3 linked regions of the Homo sapiens genome follow. The protein of the gene in region 3 interacts with the protein of the main gene of each other region in a biochemical or structural test. Each region holds a gene or a part of one and is shown on either strand. Other genes may lie near its edges. The genes, in order: RPS6KA3, NOSTRIN and FGFR1.

Evidence for each region.
Region 1: the proteins of FGFR1 (region 3) and RPS6KA3 form a complex in vitro, tested with the Homo sapiens proteins (one study listed by BioGRID).
Region 2: the proteins of FGFR1 (region 3) and NOSTRIN form a complex in vitro, tested with the Homo sapiens proteins (one study listed by IntAct).

The regions. Positions count from the first base shown.
Region 1 is NC_000023.11:20,155,410-20,159,061, reverse strand, and holds part of RPS6KA3 (ribosomal protein S6 kinase alpha-3), read left to right. Parts: intron 1-2,812; coding exon 2,813-2,953; intron 2,954-3,541; coding exon 3,542-3,652. UniProt on the Homo sapiens protein: Serine/threonine-protein kinase that acts downstream of ERK (MAPK1/ERK2 and MAPK3/ERK1) signaling and mediates mitogenic and stress-induced activation of the transcription factors CREB1, ETV1/ER81 and NR4A1/NUR77, regulates translation through RPS6 and EIF4B phosphorylation, and mediates cellular proliferation, survival, and differentiation by modulating mTOR signaling and repressing pro-apoptotic function of BAD and DAPK1.
Region 2 is NC_000002.12:168,847,534-168,851,185, forward strand, and holds part of NOSTRIN (nostrin), read left to right. Parts: intron 1-3,302; coding exon of another isoform or gene 3,303-3,473; intron 3,474-3,550; coding exon 3,551-3,649; intron 3,650-3,652. UniProt on the Homo sapiens protein: Multivalent adapter protein which may decrease NOS3 activity by inducing its translocation away from the plasma membrane.
Region 3 is NC_000008.11:38,462,126-38,465,777, reverse strand, and holds part of FGFR1 (fibroblast growth factor receptor 1 isoform 1 precursor), read left to right. Parts: intron 1-3,652. UniProt on the Homo sapiens protein: Tyrosine-protein kinase that acts as a cell-surface receptor for fibroblast growth factors and plays an essential role in the regulation of embryonic development, cell proliferation, differentiation and migration.

The sequences.
Region 1 (3,652 bases), on a different chromosome or scaffold from region 3:
TGGATGAGGGGTGGTATCCTTCACTGATTTGTAGAATACAAAAGAAGTAGTTTTGAGAGGAGTGGTGGTTGCAGATTTGGACATTATAAATTAAGAGATGTATGTCCATCAGGCAACTGTCTATATGGTTATAGGTCTTAAAAGAGAAGTCTGGGGTGACACTTAAGAGTTGTCATCATCCATAGTAGCTAAAGCCATGAATTTGAATGAGATTATCTGAGCAGAGTGTAAGAGAGCCAAGGAAAGAATTCTGGAGAGCACCACTTAAAGAGAAAGCTTAGGGGAGGAGTAGCCATTAAAGGGGCTGTAGTAAGAGAAGTAGTTTGAAGTGAGTTCACCAAAAGCTCATTAACGTATAGATTTGATTAAAATTATAATTGAGTTTTGTTGTACCCCTGGACAGTTTTGCAACCTTTTATGCAATTTTAAGCACTTTTGCCTACTTTCAGAATTGCAAAAGGGAGGTTCCTAATTTTTTTTATTTTTATTTCCAGCTCTGTTCAATTGCGTATCCCTGTTCTTAGCTGTTAATAACTAAAAGTAAGAAACCATAAATGTCTCATAGCAGAGGAGTACCTGGAACAACATCACGCTAATTCCCAAGATCTAGTTAACCACCAGATTCTGTCAGTTCTTTATCCTAAATACCTCCATTTCTCTCTCTCTCTCTCTCTTTTTTTTTTTTTTTTTTTTTTTGAGATAGAGTCTTAGTGTGTTGCCCAGGCTAGAGTTGCAGTGGTACAATCACAGCTCACTGCAACCTCCAACTTCTGGACTCTAGCTATCCTCCCACCTCAGCCTCCTGAACAGCCGGGACTACAGGCATGCACCACCACTCCCAGCTAATTTTTAAATTTTTTGTAGAGATGGAGTCCCACTACGTTGCCCAGGCTGGTCTCGAACTCCTGGGGTCAAGTGAGCCTCCCACTTTGGCCTCCCAAATTTCTCCCACGCCCAGCCCAATTTTCTCCATTACATACACCTCCCTGAAGCTGTCATCTTTCACCAGTCCATTTTCCTCCACACTCAGTGAATGTGATCTTTTTACTTAACCGCATCACTCCCTAACTTTAAACACTTTATTACCATCAAATAAGTCCACGTTTGCAAATATGGCTTACAGGGACTTTCCTGATCTGGTCCCTTCTCATCTCTCCCACTTTATCCACTGCCACATTCTCCTTCACGGTAAATTTATGCTGTAGCCGCATTGTACTGCTGCCAGTTCCTTAACTGTGTCGTCTTCTCTCCCACCTAAGAGCGTTCCTCCAAACTCACTCTCCATTCTCTCTACTCTACCTGAGGCAGTGTTTCCCCCTTCCTTTCTCTAATCTAGCTCCTGCTTATCCTACAGGTCTTATCTTCCTCTTAAAAAGTCCCTTTTAAGCCACCTCACACAGTACAGTCAGGTATCTCTGTGTCCCTCCAGCTGCACCTGGTGTTTGTTCATCCTGTCAAAGAACTTACTTGCTTTGTGATTATTGATTCTTTATCTCTCCTTCACTGAACTGAAAACTTCATGAAGTCAGAGTTCATTTTGTCTTTTTTTTTTTTTTTTTTGAGACAGGGTCTCGCTCTGTTGCCCAGACTAGAGTACAGTGGTTCAATCACGGCTCACTGCAGCCTTGACTTCCTGGGCTCAAATGATCTCTGCCTCAGCCTCCCAAATAGCTGGGACCTCAGGCATATGCCACCACACTCAGCTTTAAAAAAAAAAAAAATTGTAGATACAGGACCTCACAATGTTGCCTAGACTTCATTTCTGTGTTGTTCATTGCTAACTACCCAGTGCCTAGCAGAATGCCTGGCCTTTACTGGATACTTAACAAATGTATTTTGAATGAAAAATTTAAAAAATGGTGGCTTTTATAAATGACAGTGGTGTTATTTTGAAGAGTGTAAAACCATGTAGTGATTATATGCATCTACATTGCATGCATAGGAATGGCATTTAGATAGATATGCAGTGCTAACAGTGACTGTCTCTGGAAGAGTGGGATTATGGAACTGTTCCTCATGTGCTTTCACATTCCAGTATTTTCTGATTATTCTCTAATGCCCATGGGTTGCTTTTGAAGTAGGAAAAAAAATACTATAGTCTTTTCAGGGGGCATTTAGAGCCCTCCAATTAAATTCCTGTTATTGGACATTCATGTTTTTTTTTTTCAGTATTACCAGCAGCACAAAAAAAGTCTTAAGTAACTGAATATTACTTAAAAATAAACTGGCCAAGCACAGTGGTTCACATCTGTAATCCTAGCACCTTGAGAGGCTGAAGCGGGAGTAACACTTGCATCCAGGAGGTGGAGACCAGCCTGGGCAACATGATGAAACCCCATCTCTACTAAAAACATAAAAGTTAGCCAGGCATGGTGGCGCACACCTGTAGTCCCAGCTCTTTGGGAGGCTGAGGTGGGAGGATCACTTGAGGCCAGGAGACAGAGGTTGCAGTGAGCCAAGATCATGCCACTGCACTCCAGCCTGGGCGACAGAATGAGACCCTGTTTCAATAAATAAATAAACCTACAAAAATGTAGGAAACTCAGAAAATCTGAAGGAAAAAAGAGCCAGAGTACTTAAAGATATATAAAATGTGCTAAATTGACCCCTTGTGATGCACCAAATTACAGTTATTTAGCAGGGAAAAAGCGGAGACTGATTTTTTTTCCCCCAAATTACCATGTTGACCAAAGGGCTGCTACCAGAAAAAGCAGTATCACAGAAGCTAAGGAAGAATGTTCATTAGTATCAAGAGCCATAGAAAAAGAAGCAAAACAAAAGGTTTAAGCTTGTTTTATTATTCCCATTACAGGACCTGGTGTCAAAGATGCTTCATGTAGACCCTCATCAGAGACTGACTGCTGCTCTTGTGCTCAGACATCCTTGGATCGTCCACTGGGACCAACTGCCACAATACCAACTAAACAGACAGGATGCACCACATCTAGTAAAGGTGAGCAGCCCCATACAGTCACTGTTTTCCACAGGTCCTCCAGGAGAGACTTCAAGAAGCCCTGTCCATGCCCCCAGCACCTTTCTCTTTCATCCTGCATCCAGTTCTGTTGTGGGATTCTCTTACAGTGGGTGACTTCGAAAAGCTCAAGGCATATCAATATATTAGTAATAAAACTAGTTTAAGAGCGACTTTTGAATTCCTCTCAGTCTACATGAGTAGGTATTCACTATCAATAAGGACAGATTAAGCTTATGGATTTCCCAACTTAAAGAGCATGCCTTCCTGTCTCTTTAGTGCCTTTATGCATTAAAGGAATGCAAAGGGAAAAAATGTTGAATAGTCCTGAGAAAAGTGAGGACTGCCTGTTATGAGCCTATCTTTGTTCTCTCTCATACATAATTTTAACCTCCATGTTGGCCTCTACAGTTTTGGTTAAGTCAGTGGATTTGACCAGTGTGGTTATTTTCATTATGAACCAAATAAAATCTATGTACATTTGCATATGAAAAAACTCTTCATTTTGTATTTGTGTACGTGTGACTATCCATTGTCACTTTTGTTACTACCTTTATTTCCTTTGTTCAGGGTGCCATGGCAGCTACATATTCTGCTTTGAACCGTAATCAGTCACCAGTTTTGGAACCAGTAGGCCGCTCTACTCTTGCTCAGCGGAGAGGTATTAAAAAAATCACCTCA
Region 2 (3,652 bases), on a different chromosome or scaffold from region 3:
CAAAATCCCTTTGACTTCTTCCTGTAGTACCAGCCCAAAGGCTAGGACAGCAAGAACTGGAAGGAACGAATGAAGAACAAATTGTCATGATGCTTGGGCCCCAGACAGGCTCTAAATCTGCTGAAATCTGAATCTTTCTGGATAACTCCTTGACCACACTTTGTTCATATATACTATTGTGGAACCTCAAGAGGACAGTTTGAGGTCCTCCAGAGTATCTTGCTTCTCTACCACCTATTTTATATAAAAAGAACAAGATAATAAAAAGCAAAAAATCATTAGATATGGATCTCTCCTTTGCACAGTGGAATTTATTTCCTCCTCTTCTTATGAGCAAACATAGATCATTTTAATGATTTCCCTGAAATGTAATTAAAATCTGTTAAGCATTACCATGTCACTAAGGAACACTGGTTATTCTAGTCTCAGATTGATGCTAGTGGTTCAGCACTTGTCAAAGTAAAGAAACACCTGCCCACTAGGGATGCAATATGTTCTAAAACCTGGCTTTTATTTTCTCTTCTCTCTTGCTCATAGGCTAAAACAGAAGAGCTGATTTCTAGATCTTTTTCTATAGGGTAAGGACTTCTTCTTTTTGAAGATTGTCACATAGGAGATCCAAACAACTGAGCAGAATTTGTTTTACGTATTTGTTATGAGGCATATCGATTCTGCCTTTTAAGAAGCAAAACATTTGATAGGCTATTCTGTGTCTTTAATCCTTTATCTGGGAGACAGAAGGGCAGACGGCCACATTCAAATGACTGGTGCCTGCAATTTTGTGAAAGCCTCAGGGGACTGCCAGCGTAAACCAATCCATTTGACTCCCATTGACATATGAAAATTGGGCAGCTTCAGAGGCAACTAAGAAGATTGCCATGGGGGCGTGGCTCCAGGCTTCCAATCCAAATGTCAGGACACTTGATACAAAAGCTAAAGTTGCATGTGATTGGCACAGATGTTCATAGTTACTGCCTGAGCCTTTTACTACTTTCATTTGCAAGCAGTGTTCAAATGACTATATACCAAAAAACAAAATGTGGTATATGCATACCATGGAATATTATTCAGCCAAAAAGGAAGGGAATTCTGGCACATGCTACAACATGGATGAACCTTGCAGACATTATGCTAAGTGAAATAGCCAGATGCAAAAGAACAAGTAGTGTATGATTCCTCTTGTAAGAGGTATCAAGAGTAGTTAAATTTGTAGAGACAGAAAGTAGAATGGTGGTTGCCAGGGGATGCAGAGCGTAGGAAATGAGAAGTCGTTGTTTCATGGGTACGGTTTACTTTTGCAAGATGAAAAAAGTTTTAGAGATGAATTATGGTGGTGTTTGCATAATAATGTGAATGCACTTAATGACACTGAAATGGATGCCTAAGGTGGATAAAATGGCATGTCATATTATGTAAATTTTACCATAATTAAAAGTATAAAGAAATTTAAAATAATTTTAATCACCATATACCATAGATGAATTAACAACACAGGGATATAGAGGAATACCATACTGAATCAGGCCAATGGGCTCCTGTAGGAATTTCAAGAGGTGAGCAAGGAGAACCCAGTGATCTTTGTGACTCTCCATTCTCACCTCTCTTGCACTGCCAAGGGCCTTGAGACATACCCATCTTTCTTCTTCCCTATGGTCGTGTTACCCACCAACTTCTCCAAAGCCTTGTTCATGAAAGATGATTGCTGGTGCTCTTTGTGGGATGCAGGAGTTGGGATGGTGGGTATGAGAGCAACTGAGCTGGACTTCCCTGGATAAAAGGATGAATGCCCAGGCCTTGTATTTTTTCTTTCTTTCTTTCTCTTTCTTCTTTTCTTTTTTTTGAGATGGAATCTCACTCTTTTGCACAGGCTGGAGTGCAGTGGCATGATCTCAGCTCACTGCAACCACCACCTCCCAGGTCCAAGCGATTCTCCTGCCTCAGCCTCCTGAGTAGCTGGGACGACAGGCGCCCGCCACCAGGCCTGGCTAATTTTTGTATTTTTAGTAGAGACGGGGTTTTGCCACGTTGGGCAGGCTGGCCTTGAACTCCTGACCTCAGGTAGTTCACCCGTCTCGGCCTCCCAAAATGCTGGGATTATAGGCATGAGCCACCGCACCTAGCCAGGCCTTGTTTTTACAAAAAAAAAAAAAAAAAAAGATGGGAAGAATTTTGTCTTGGACACCTGCCATCTCCATCAAAGCCCAAAGTCCCCTGGGCACATACCCAGCAGCCTTACACTGCCCCCACATGGCCTTGGAGTCTCCCTGAATACTCTGCCTGAGCCAGCCTTCTCTAAGAATGCTTAGTTGCTAAAGCTTTCTGCCCCCTGTAAAACCACCAGTCAGCAACTCAGTTGGCATGGGTCCAATAAGTAACATTTTCTCATTTTTTTTTTTTTTTTGAGACAGTTTCACTTTTGTCACCCAGGCTGGAGTGCAGTAGCATGATCTCGGCTCACTGCAAACTTCACCTCCTGGGTTCAGGCAATTCTGCCTCAACCTCCTGAGTAGCTGGGATTACAGGCGTGTGCCACCATGCCTGGCTAATTTTTGTATTTTTAGTAGAGATAAGGTTTCACCATGTTGGCTGGGCTGGTCTCAAACTCCTGACCTCAGGTGATCCTCCCACCCTGGCCTCCCAACGTGCTGGGATTATAGGCATGAGCCACTGTGCCCGGCCTCTAAAATGTTAATAGCTAACAAAGCAAATGTGATTCCCCTCACTTTCTTATTTACCCTTCCTACCTAAAAGTCATAAGTCTAATAATGAAACTTCTGTCATCTCACACAAAATAAAGAGGCTATGTGTCTACCTGCAAACAGCGGACTCTGACTCCCAGGCCTAATTTTAGGCAGAATTATAAATTGGTCAGACTTTGGGATTCTTCTCTTGTCAAATAACCTCCTTAAACAGAGAATTTGTGGCCTGTCATTCTCTTCCCTGCAGACTAGCAGAACGCCTTGAATGTACTATAAACAATTCTAAAACTATTGGGTGTCTCAATGCATTTCCAAGACATGGATATGGGCTTTCCTGGGCTTCACCCTCTGGAATTCTTCCCAATTTTTTTTTTTTTTTTTTTGTAAAAACAAGGCCTGGCTAGGCGCGGTGGCTCATGCCTGTAATCCTAGCACTTTGGGAGGCCAAGACAGGTGGACCATCTGAGGTCAGGAGTTCAAGGCCAGCCTGCCCAACATGGTGAAACCCCATCTCTACTGAAATTCTCTGGAATTCTCTGGAATCCATGATTGTGTCTCAAATGCTTCCTTTTCTTCTTTTCTCCCCCTTCCTCATAAACTTAGGTAACCCACAGCATCTGCCTATATGCCTTTTGGGTCAAAAGAGCCTGGGGAAAGTGTGTGAGTGATTTAAGATACCAAGACACATTCCTTCCTGGAAATCTCCCTCCACTATGGTTTGGATATGACATAGTCAAGAGGCTAATCATGAGACTTTGTTCAGTCTGTCTTCAGGTGTGTCAGTGTTTGATGAGTGACTTCCATTTTGCATAACAACTGGCTGATCTTACCCCAATTTTCATTCTTTTCAGAGCATTCTGGAGCTGGAGAAGGAAAGAATTCAACTTTTATGCAATAACTTAAACCAGTACAGCCAACATATTTCTCTTTTTGGCCAAACCCTGACCACAGTG
Region 3 (3,652 bases):
GCCCGGGCTCCCGGTTTCCTCCCTGAGGCTTGTTTAAAAGCGAAGTAGCAGGGCCCCGTGGGACGCGCCTTGGTCTGGGTAATCACCCCCACGCCCGGGTCATCCACCTTCCTCTCGGTGACCGAGGTTCAGCAGCCTCTGCTATTGCCGGCCGTCTTTGCCGATGGCCTGCCTCCCTAATGACTTGTTTACATATCCTACCCCCAGTGGGTTAGGAGAAGCTCCGGGGCTGCCCCGACCCTCCGAGTGCAGGGTGTTTGGGGACCGGGAGGCTGCTGGGGCCTGACTCCAGCTGGGAGGGTTATGAACTGCATCAGTGACGAGCTGCTTGAAATATCTGTTGCATTTACTCTTAGTCATAGCTGAGTGTCAGCTTTTTAATGAGGTTCATCCAGATTGAGAGCCACTTGGACTGCGTACTTCACTGCCTGCTTTTCCAAACATGCCTGCAGAAATGCTCATTTTCGAGGTATTTTTCCCAATGGGAATTCAGGCCAGAGTGGGCACCACTTGAACAATCTTAGGGTGCTTCTTTTCCTTGGCCTCTGGCCATGGAGGGTGTTAGACAGTTCCATTAGGTGGCCCTTTGATAGCAAGGGAAGCAAAGGCTCAGGAAGAAATGGAGAAGCGTCCCCCACTCCCTAGGGGCAGAGGATTAGATACATCGGTGCATCCCTCAGGCTGGGCTAGCTTTATTCCTGGTGGACTCCAGAGGGCAAGAAAATTGAATTGAACACTGGGTAGGCAGATTCAAGCCTTAGAGACCAAGGAAAATCCATGGGTTTTGCTTTTAGTGGTGTGCTCTTTGTTTTCAGTATTGACCTGAAACAAGACTCCTAAAATGAGAGATTTGCTGGTATGAACTTGGGGGTTTAGCAGCCGGCTTCTACAAAGGCTTTTTTCTTGCCTTCGTTTCTAAAGTGTCTTTCGTCAAAATGGCTGTTAGTTATAGAACATCCTAGCAAAGTTTGAGCCTGTTGCTGCTGGAGGAAAAGGAGTTAGAATTGATTCAAATGTCTTATTCTGAAAGGGCCTCACATCACTTGATAGTTTAATTTCCTCCTGGGAAATTTGTGTCTTACATTTGTCTTCCCCAGAGCTTTGTAAAAGGCCTGAACGCACCAGGGACTAGTGGGAGCCCAGATGCAGAGCTTTAGAGAAGATTCTGGTGTTTCCAGAGAGGATGAAATGTCAGACTTGGGCTAGGATATTTGTTTTTCCTCCTAAGGTTGCATCTACTTTAAACAGAAATTCTCTCCTCGCCACCATTTATCTCTCCCCTGCAATGAAAGAAACCATGTTTAGGGCCCTCTCCCCCATTTAATAGCCCTCACATGGATGAACTATCCCAAGAATTTGGTGGGGTTCCACTCATAGTACATCCTGTCTTCAAGAGCAAGGTTTTCTAGATTATGTGCAGCAGTTCGTGTTTCACTTGTTGCTTTTTTTTTTTTTTTTTTTTTTTGAGATAGTCTCGCTCTGTCGCCCAGGCTGGAGTGCTGTGGCGCTATCTCAGGTCACTGCAACCTCCGCCTTCCGGTTGAAGCGATTCTCCTGCCCCAGCCTCCCTAGTAGCTGGGATTGCAAGCATGCGCCACCATGTCCGGCTAATTTTTTGTGTTTTTAATAGAGATGGTGTTTCACCATGTTGGCCAGGCTGGGCTTGAACTCCTGACCTCAAGCAATCCGCTGGCCTCGGCCTCCCAAAATGCTGGGATTACAGGTGTGAGCCATTGTGCCTGACCACTTATTGCTAATTTTTTATATGTCTCTTACTTCCAAGGACATTTAGACACTTTTTTTTTTTAAAGAGACTCAAAAAATTAGCATTTCCATTGGACCAACTAAAATTTAGCAAGCTGAGCTGAGTAACTTTCTCCATATGTTTATTAAGTACTTGCCCCCTGCCCTCTCAACATGTGAGTAGAGAATGGTCACTTTGGGGAAGAAATAAGTCTTATTCTCATCTGAAGGGATTAATGTTTTGGTGTTACTTCCTCAATTCTGAAGAACCAAGTTGTCCAGAAATTTTCTCAGGGTTCTTTGGACTAGAGTTTGGCTGGTTAACAAGGGGTACTACCTAATTGCTTTTCTCTGATATTCTCAGCCTCTTTTTCTGGAGGAGTATCTCTGTCAGTTTCTTTTCATCAGCCCTTTTTTTTCCTTCATTCACTTACTCATTCATCCAGTTAACAAACATGTTGGCATCTCCTGTGTACATGCTAGGTGCCGAGGGTGTTAGCAAAGGTTAGGGAGGCACAGACCCTGTTCTGAAGGAGCCTGCAGTTTCGTGGGGAGAGAAGAGAATGAAGAACATAAATAACAATCATATAATATGACCTAAGTGCTATGTGAGAGGGGCTAGTAATGTGGTTTGCAAATTTGGAGGAATGAAATTCTCCAGCTAGAAGGCCCAAGAAAGTCTTATGGAAGAAACAGCTTCTTAAGGTGGGGTTCAGAGAAAAGGGAAGGGCTGGCCTGTTGCAGAACAAGGAATGGCATGAAGAAAGTCTTGCACAGAGGCATGGATGTTGCTTCGAGCTGTGGCGCCCTATAGAAATAGAACATGAGCAGCTGGTCACAGTGGCTCATGCCTGTAATCCCAGCACTTTGGGAGGCCAAGGCAGGCGGATTGCTTGAGCCCATGAGATGGAGATGAGCCTGGACAACATGGTGAGACCCTGTGTCTACCAAAAAATACACAAATTAGATGAGTATGCTCGTGCTTACTGGTAGTCCCGGCTATTCAGGAGGCTGAGGTGGGAGGATCACTTGAGCCTAGGAGGCAGAGGCTGCAATAAGCTGTGATTGCACCACTGCATTCCAGCCTGGGGGACAGAGGAAGACCCTGTTTAAAAAAAAAAAAAAAAAAAAAGCCAGGCACAGTGGCTCATGCCTGTAATCCCAGCCCTTTGGGAGGCCAAGGCAGGTGGATCACCTGAGGTCAGGAGTTCAAGACCAGCCTGGCCAACATGGTGAAACCCTATTTCTACTAAAAATAAAAAAATTAGCCGGGCTTGGTGGCTCATGTCTGTAATCCCAGCTACTTGGGAGGCAGGAGAATCGTTTGAACCCGGGAGGCGGTGGTTGAGCCAAGATTGCGCCACTGCAACTCCAGCCTGAGTGACAGAGCAAGACTCCATCTCAAAGAAAAAAAGAAAGGAAGAAAGAAATATAACATTATAACATGAGTTATGTATATGTTCAGATTTTCTAGAAGCCACATTGGAAATTAAGTTAAAAGAAAGAAATAGGTAAAAAAAATTTTTTTTTTTGAGACGGAGTCTCACTTTGTTGCCAGGCTGGAGTGCAGTGGCGCAATCTCGGCTCACTGCAACCTCTGCCTCCCGGGTTCAAGCAATTCTCCTGCCTCAGCCTCCTGAGTAGCTGGGACTACAGGCGCGCGCCACTGCACGCAGCTAATTTTTGTACTTTTAGTAGAGACGGGGTTTCACCATGTTGGCCAGGATGGTGTCGACCTCTTGACCTCGTGATTTGCCCACCTCAGCCTCCCAAAGTGCTGGGATTACAGGCGTGAGCCACCGCGCCTGGCCAATATTTGTTTTTTAATTAACTTGTTTGTTTAGATTTTATTTAATGTAACTATATTTCCAAAATATTATCATTTGAACATGTAATCAATATAGAAATT